2 linked regions of the Homo sapiens genome follow. The protein of the gene in region 2 purifies or fractionates together with the protein of the main gene of each other region. This does not show direct contact. Each region holds a gene or a part of one and is shown on either strand. Other genes may lie near its edges.

Evidence for each region. Proteins that work in one complex are often made in the same cells at the same time.
Region 1: the proteins of ZNF577 (region 2) and DDI2 purify together in Homo sapiens (affinity purification with mass spectrometry; one large-scale study listed by BioGRID and IntAct). This does not show direct contact.

What each region holds. Positions count from the first base shown.
Region 1 is NC_000001.11:15,630,958-15,634,457, forward strand, and holds part of DDI2 (protein DDI1 homolog 2), read left to right. Parts: intron 1-2,481; coding exon 2,482-2,608; intron 2,609-3,500. UniProt on the Homo sapiens protein: Aspartic protease that mediates the cleavage of NFE2L1/NRF1 at 'Leu-104', thereby promoting release of NFE2L1/NRF1 from the endoplasmic reticulum membrane.
Region 2 is NC_000019.10:51,874,452-51,877,951, reverse strand, and holds part of ZNF577 (zinc finger protein 577), read left to right. Parts: intron 1-574; coding exon 575-670; intron 671-3,500. UniProt on the Homo sapiens protein: May be involved in transcriptional regulation.

The DNA.
Region 1 (3,500 bases), on a different chromosome or scaffold from region 2:
CTCAGCCTCCCAAGTAGCTGGGACTACAGGCGCATGCTGCCACACCTGGCTAATTTTTTGTATTTTTATTAGAGACGGGGTTTCACCGTGTTAGCCAGGATGGTCTCGATCTCCTGACCTCGTGATCCGCCTGCCTCGGCCTCCCAAAGTGCTGGGATTACAGGTGTGAGCCACCATGCCCAGCCAGTACCGATATTTTAACCTTAGTTAGATCTTCAATTAAAGAGATCATCAACAAGCCAGCTGATGCCAGCTGATGCCAGGAAGGTTCAGTGCCCTGTATGGCAAAATGGAATCACCATAACCTCAGTCCACTCCAAGTTATTTTTTGTATTTTTTGTAGAGATGGAGTTTTGCCATGTTGTCCAGGCTGCTTTCGAATTCTTGGGCTCAAGCAGTCTGCCTGCCTTGGCCTCCCAAAGTGCTGGGATTACAGGCATGAGCAGTTGCACCCAGCTAACTTGTAGCCATCTTTATGAATCGAGTTTTCTCTGTAAATTACTCTCATTTTACTCTTGGGTTTATGAGTTAAATTGGGTTAAGTCTAAAAACATAACAGACACTTAATGACTCATTCCTCAATTGACTGTCTTTAAATTGGCAATCTTTACCTTAAGCGAAGTACTCAGATTTTAAATATACAATTCCTTGAGTTTTGACAAACTCCTGTAACCCCAATCAAGACACAGGACATTTCTCTCACTCCAGAAAGTTCCACTGTGTTGCTTTCTAGTCAATCTCCTCTCCTTATAGGTTACTACTGTTTTGATAATCTTATGGTTTAGTTTCCCGTATTTTTAAACTTCATGTATATGGAATAATAGAGTGTCTGCTCTTTCGTGTTAGGCTTTGTTTTTTTTTTTCTTGAGACGGAGTTTCACTCTGTCTCCCAGGCTGGAGTGCAGTGGCGCGATCTCTGCTCACTGCAACCTTCGCCTCCTGGGTTCAAGCGATTCTCCCGCCTCAGTGTCCCAAGTAGCTGGGACTACAGGCGTGCACCACCACACCCGGCTAATTTTTGTATTATTAGTAGAGATTGGGTTTCACCATGTTGGCCAGGCTGGTCTCAAACTCCTGACCTCGTGATCCACCCGTCTCGGCTTCCCAAAGTACTGAGATTACAGGCGTGAGCCACCACTCCCAGCTCGTGTTAGGCTTTTCACTCAACTTAATGCTTTTTAGATCCATCTGTATTGTGTGCATTAGTAGTTCAGATAACCATTGTCATAATATCTTTTAATCTCTTATATCAGCATATCTAATCACCAAAGATGGTGATGATGGGGCATTTAAGTTTGCACACTTAAATGTACCACCATTTAAGAAATTGCAAAATAGGCCGGGCACGGTGGATCACCTGAGGTCAGGAGTTCAAGACCAGCCTGGCCAACATGGTGAAACCCAGTCTCTACTAATAATACAAAAATTAGCTGGACGTGGTGGCAGGTACCTGTAATCCCAGCTACTTGGGAGGCTGAGGCAGGAGAATCACTTGAACCTGGGAGGTGGAGGTTGTAGTGAGCCAAGATTGCGCCATTGCTCCCCAGCCTGGGCAACAAGAGCGAAACTCCATCTCAAAAAAAAAGAAATTGCAAAATAGGTTCTTGTTGTAACATACATCTTATAGCAAGCAGTGTTTTCTCTACTAATTTTCCTGCCTATTAATTCATCAGAACACACACAAAATATAGGTAGACTAAAAATAGTTTATACTTAATGTATCTGGCTTAAGGCAGGGCATGTTATAAAAGAAATGAAACTAGAAGAGGAAAAGGAGATTATATAATGCTGTATTTTGTTTCTAGGTAGTAGGATAATGAGAACAATGAGGAATGGAGGAGTGGAGACATTGATCTGCCACATGGTCACTCCCCACCATTTTAAATTGGAAAGTTGTTACCTCTGAGTAGAAACAATATGATAGATAACTTCTTATAAAAAATTTTTGCAAATACTTTTTTTTTTTTTTTTTTTAAAAAAAAAAAAACAGGGTCTCACCATGTCACCCAGGCTGGAGTGTGTGGTGCGATCACAGCTCACTGCATCCTCGACCTCCTGGGCTCAGGCCATCCCCCCACCCTTGAACCCCCATCCAACAGTAGCTGGGACTACAGGCATGCACCACCACGCCCAACTAATTTTTATATTTTTTGTAGAGACAAGGTCTTGCTATGTTGCCCAGGCTGGTCTCGAACTCCTAGGCTCAAACGGTCCTCCCACCTCAGCCTCCCAAAGTGTCGAGATTATAGGCATGAGCTACCACACCCAGCCACAAATACTTTCTTTACACTGAATTTAAATGATGAAATAGCCTTGACTCAGAGAACAGAAAGTAAATGTAATTGCTCATTTTAAATAAGCTTTAGGCATCCTCTCTGCATCTCTTACAGATGTAGTTTGATAAATTGTTTGGTGTGGAAAAGTACTGATAAACGTTGAAAATATAGTGATATTTAAGATTTTTCTCCCTTATTTTTGTAGAGAAATTTTCTAGAGTCCTGGTGGAGCAGCAGCAGGACCGAGCCCGGAGAGAGCAAGAAAGGATTCGTCTGTTTTCTGCTGATCCCTTTGACCTTGAAGCTCAGGCAAAGATAGAAGAAGATATAAGGTAAAGACCTGTTCATCTAAAGAACAAAACTTAGAGACTCCAGATTTCCCAGACTGCAGGTTATCTGACATTGGTTGGGCATCTGCTTGGAGGTAGCTTCTCTGTTTTGCAGTTGAGATAGTAACCTCAGTCTTTTAGGTTAGTCTCTCCTCTTTCATTTTCTATGCATTTCGATTTGACATGACAAAGATATAGGTGCTTAGTTTAATGACTTTCTTTCTAAAATTTTAAGGAGGACTCCCTGACTAGCAGACAGAGCATCATAACACAGCTTTAGATAAATGACCCCCGGACTGAGCAGAAGCCACCATCTGGTGAGACCACAAGGCTGGTTGCATATTACATGGGCTGATTTGACTCTCTTTCTTTAGACATATTGTATAAGTCCTGATTAAATCCAGGGCTTAAACATGATTGGATTAGAGAGGGCTCTGCGCCGATGGAACGTTGGTAGTCCTAAGTCTGTTTTCCTGCTGCATTTCTTGTACTGGCCTCAGTGGATAAACTGAATGCTGGACATGTTTCCAGCTCTCAGTTTCTGTAATGCGGTGGTTCTCACCTGGGGCTATAGTAAAATCACATGAGAAACTTTTAAAAATGCAGATGCTTGGACTCTTCTCCCAAATCTGATGAATCAGAATTGTCGGGCATGGAGCTCAAGCAAGGACAGTGACGCTGTTCCGGCCTCAGTCACACTGATAGTCACAAGCAAGATTCTGTTCAGTCATTCTCTGAAAAAAAGGACAGCTGCTTTTCCTGCCTCAAGTCAGTTTTTGTTGCTAATTGTGAAGAACTTAGTATAACTAAGAAGAAGATAACAGCAACGATACTTACTACACTTAGACTGCTTGGCCTTTTAGGGACCGTGTCATCATTCCGGTTACTTAAATGA
Region 2 (3,500 bases):
ATGTGCCAGAGTTTCCTTTTTAAGGCTGAATAATATTCTTTTGTATATATATATACCACCTTTTGCTTATCCACTTATCTGTTAAGGAACACTGGGTTGCTTCCATGTTTTAGCGCTTGTGAATCATGTTGCTATGAATATGGGTGTACAAATAATCTCTTTGAGACCCTGCTTTCCATTCTTTGGGGTATATACCCAGAAGTGGAATTGCTGGGTGATATGGTCATTCCATTGTTAATTTTTTGAGGAACAGTTTTCCACAATGTCAGTACCATTTTACATTCCCACCAAGAGTACACAGGGTCCCAGTTTCTCCACATCTTTGCCAACAATTGTTATTTTCTGTTTTTGTTTGTCTGTTTGTTTTTTTGATAGTAGCCATCCTAATGGGTATGGGTGTGTCACGCAGACTGTTATTTTCCTCCCTGGCACGAAGTGGTTGTGCTCTTTTCCTGAGTGAAAGAGTTTTGCTTTATCAAAGTGCAAATGCTGTGGTTCCTGAGACATAACCCTCTCCATCTTCATCCATTCCCCAAGCACACGTGCCAAGTGTTCAGTGATCTCCCATTTACAGGGTATCGAGGCACCAAGCCAGATTCGCTCTTCAAGTTGGAGCAAGGAGAACCCCCAGGGATAGCAGAAGGAGCAGCCCACAGTCAAATCTGTCCAGGTAAGTGAGTGAAAACTAAGAAAATGGGGAGAAATGGCATGCAAATCCCAGCTGGTCGGAGAAGGGTTGATGCTTTTAAAGTGTTCTTTAGAGGACTTCACAGTAGTTGGTGGCCCAGAAACCTAATCAGCCTTTCTGCATCTGTGTCCATCCCTAATAGAGCCGGCTCTCAAAGGATAATGTCTTCCTTTCTTCTATTTTCTGGATCTGATTTCAGTCCATGTCATCGAAGACCTTGAATTCTTACCTGGTTCCATTCTTCCCAGCCTGCTCCTGACTTTTGCCCCTTCCTTACTTGCTTTGAAATTCCCCTCGTAACCCATCTGGATTATGTTGCCTTTTTTTTTTTTTTTTTGAGACGGAGTCTCGCACTGTGGCTGGGCTGGAGTGCAGTGATGTGATCTTGGCTCACTGCAACCTCCACCTCCCAGGTTTAAGTGATTCTCCTGCCTCAGCCTCCCGAGTAGCTGGGATTACAGGTGCCGGCCACCAGGCCCGGCTAATTTTTTTGTATTTTTTGTAGAGACGAGTTTTCACTACATTGGCCAGGCTGGTCTCAAACTCCTGACCTCATGAACCACCCACCTTGGCCTCCCAAAGTGCTGGGATTTCAGGCATGAGCCACTGCGCCTGGCTGGATTGCATTACTTTTAGCACTTCTGTCGCTTAAAAGTGTATCCCGGCCCCTCTGGAAAGGCCTGATTTCCTTCACTGAAAATCACCTCACCTTAGCTCACGTCAATGCCTCCACACCATGTCTCTTGGGGCATCTCTGTCGACTTACTCACCCACTGCTCCCCGCCTTTCCAGCTTCTGTTTTTTTTTTTTATCTTCTGCTGATTCTCCTGGTAGAAGTTTAATTCACTCTCAGGGCCTGAGCTCTCTGGCCCCTGCTGGAGACTCGCAAAGTAGCATGTCTGCTACTAACGTCTCATCTGCACTCTAACCCGCTGCGTGTCGCCAGCCACCAGGACAGCTCTCCGAATATTTCCTTCTTCCAGGATGTGAAACCAGAATCCTCCTTTCTCCCAGTTGTTTCTACCATCATGTAGTATACTCACATATACTAAAGATTTCAGCTGTGTCTTCTGACAAATAGCTTCATGCAGATATCTCCTTTTCTGTAATCTCACCTGCCTTCTTATTCTATATTTTGCCAGCACCCTGGACGAGTATTCTGTGAAATTCTTCTTCCCTCAGCTTCAGGGTTAGAAACTGTGATTCTCTTTCCTCCTGGAAAATCCTTTCCCTCCCTGTGCATTATATTTAGGTTCTGCTGTATTGCTCATCACTCCGGTGCCTGGTCACCTTGGAGTTGCCTTGAGTCTTCTCGGTTTACTCTGTTCTACGTCTGAATGTCTCAGCTGCTCCTGTTAATTTTTATTGTTTTGAACACTCTACTCTTGAAGTCCCACTTCACAGTAGGCCATGGTAGTAGAGGTTCTTATCGCCTCCATTGCTGCACGTTTGACTGACTTCTCTTTTTCTGTGAGTTCCATTTGATGTGATGGCTTCATTCCCCTCTGGGCAGGGGCCATCAAAGCACTGGAACTTGATGAGAAGACATGAGGAGTGAGTGTTGCTTGAAGAAAGAAGAGGTCCACATATATTCAGAGATTCAAAAGAGGAGAACCCAGCCACATAGAAAAAGTATCAGGGTTGTGGTGGGAGAGTCAGAAGATGTCCATGAAATAAGTGACAAAATTATTCCAAGGAGGAGGAAGACATATATTTTATTGAATGCTACAGATAATGTCAAATAACATGAGGACTGACATCTGTGCATTTGATCACGTTGCATTTTTACATCCAGATACTGCCCTCTTTCGCTGTCGGCTCTTGTTTTACTTCCAAGAACTAGTTTTTGACTATGCCAGGGCACATTTGGAGCTCTCTCTTTTTTTTTTTTTTTTTTTTTGTGACAGAGTTTTGCTTTTGTTGCCCAGGTTGGAGTGCAGTGGCCCAATCTTGGCTCACTGCAACCTCTGCCACCCAGGTTCAAGGGATTCTCCTGCCTCAGCCTCCCGAGTAGGTGAGATTACAGGCACCTGCCACCACGCCTAGCTAATCCTTTTTTTTGTATTTTTAGTAGAGACAGGGTTTCAGCATGTTGGCCAGACTGGTCTTGAACTCCTCCCATCCACCTCGACCTCCCAAAGTGCTGGGACTACAGACGTGAAGCACTGCGCCTGGCCACCCTCTTTTCTGACTTTTATCTCCTTTGTGTCTATGCTGCACTAACTTAGTAATGGTCATATATTGTTTTGTGTGTGTGTTTTACTGGTTGGTATGAGGCTTCTTTTACCCTCATTTTATTAAATGGCACCAGCACCTACATAGGTGTTTTAAGCCACATACTGAGCAGTTATCCTCAATTCTTCGCTTTTCTGCTGGGAACATGTGTTCTAAGAGTGAATCCTATCTTTTCCTCCTCCATACTTATGTTCTTGTTTTTTCACATTTCTCCATCTCCATTGTAATTATTCCTGATCAAGCCATCTGAATTCTGCCATAACCTCCAGCATATTCCCTTCTATAATTTCATCTTTTCAATTCATTCTCCATAGGACAGTCATGTTTTGGAACTGTCAATTCAGAACATGTTTTCTTGGCAAAAAAATGTTTGGTGGCTTACTGCCATTGTTCTTAGCATAAATTCCAGTTTCTAACAAAGTCTTCCTCCAAAATCTTCATGTTTTTAATCCTGCCAGCCTTGCCAAACTTTTGTATTTCTACTTCACTCAAGCTCAGGATATTCCGGGTAAACCAGCTTCTCTTACATTTTTTTTTTTTTATCACACCTAAGTTTTTTCTGCCTCTGGGTTTTCAC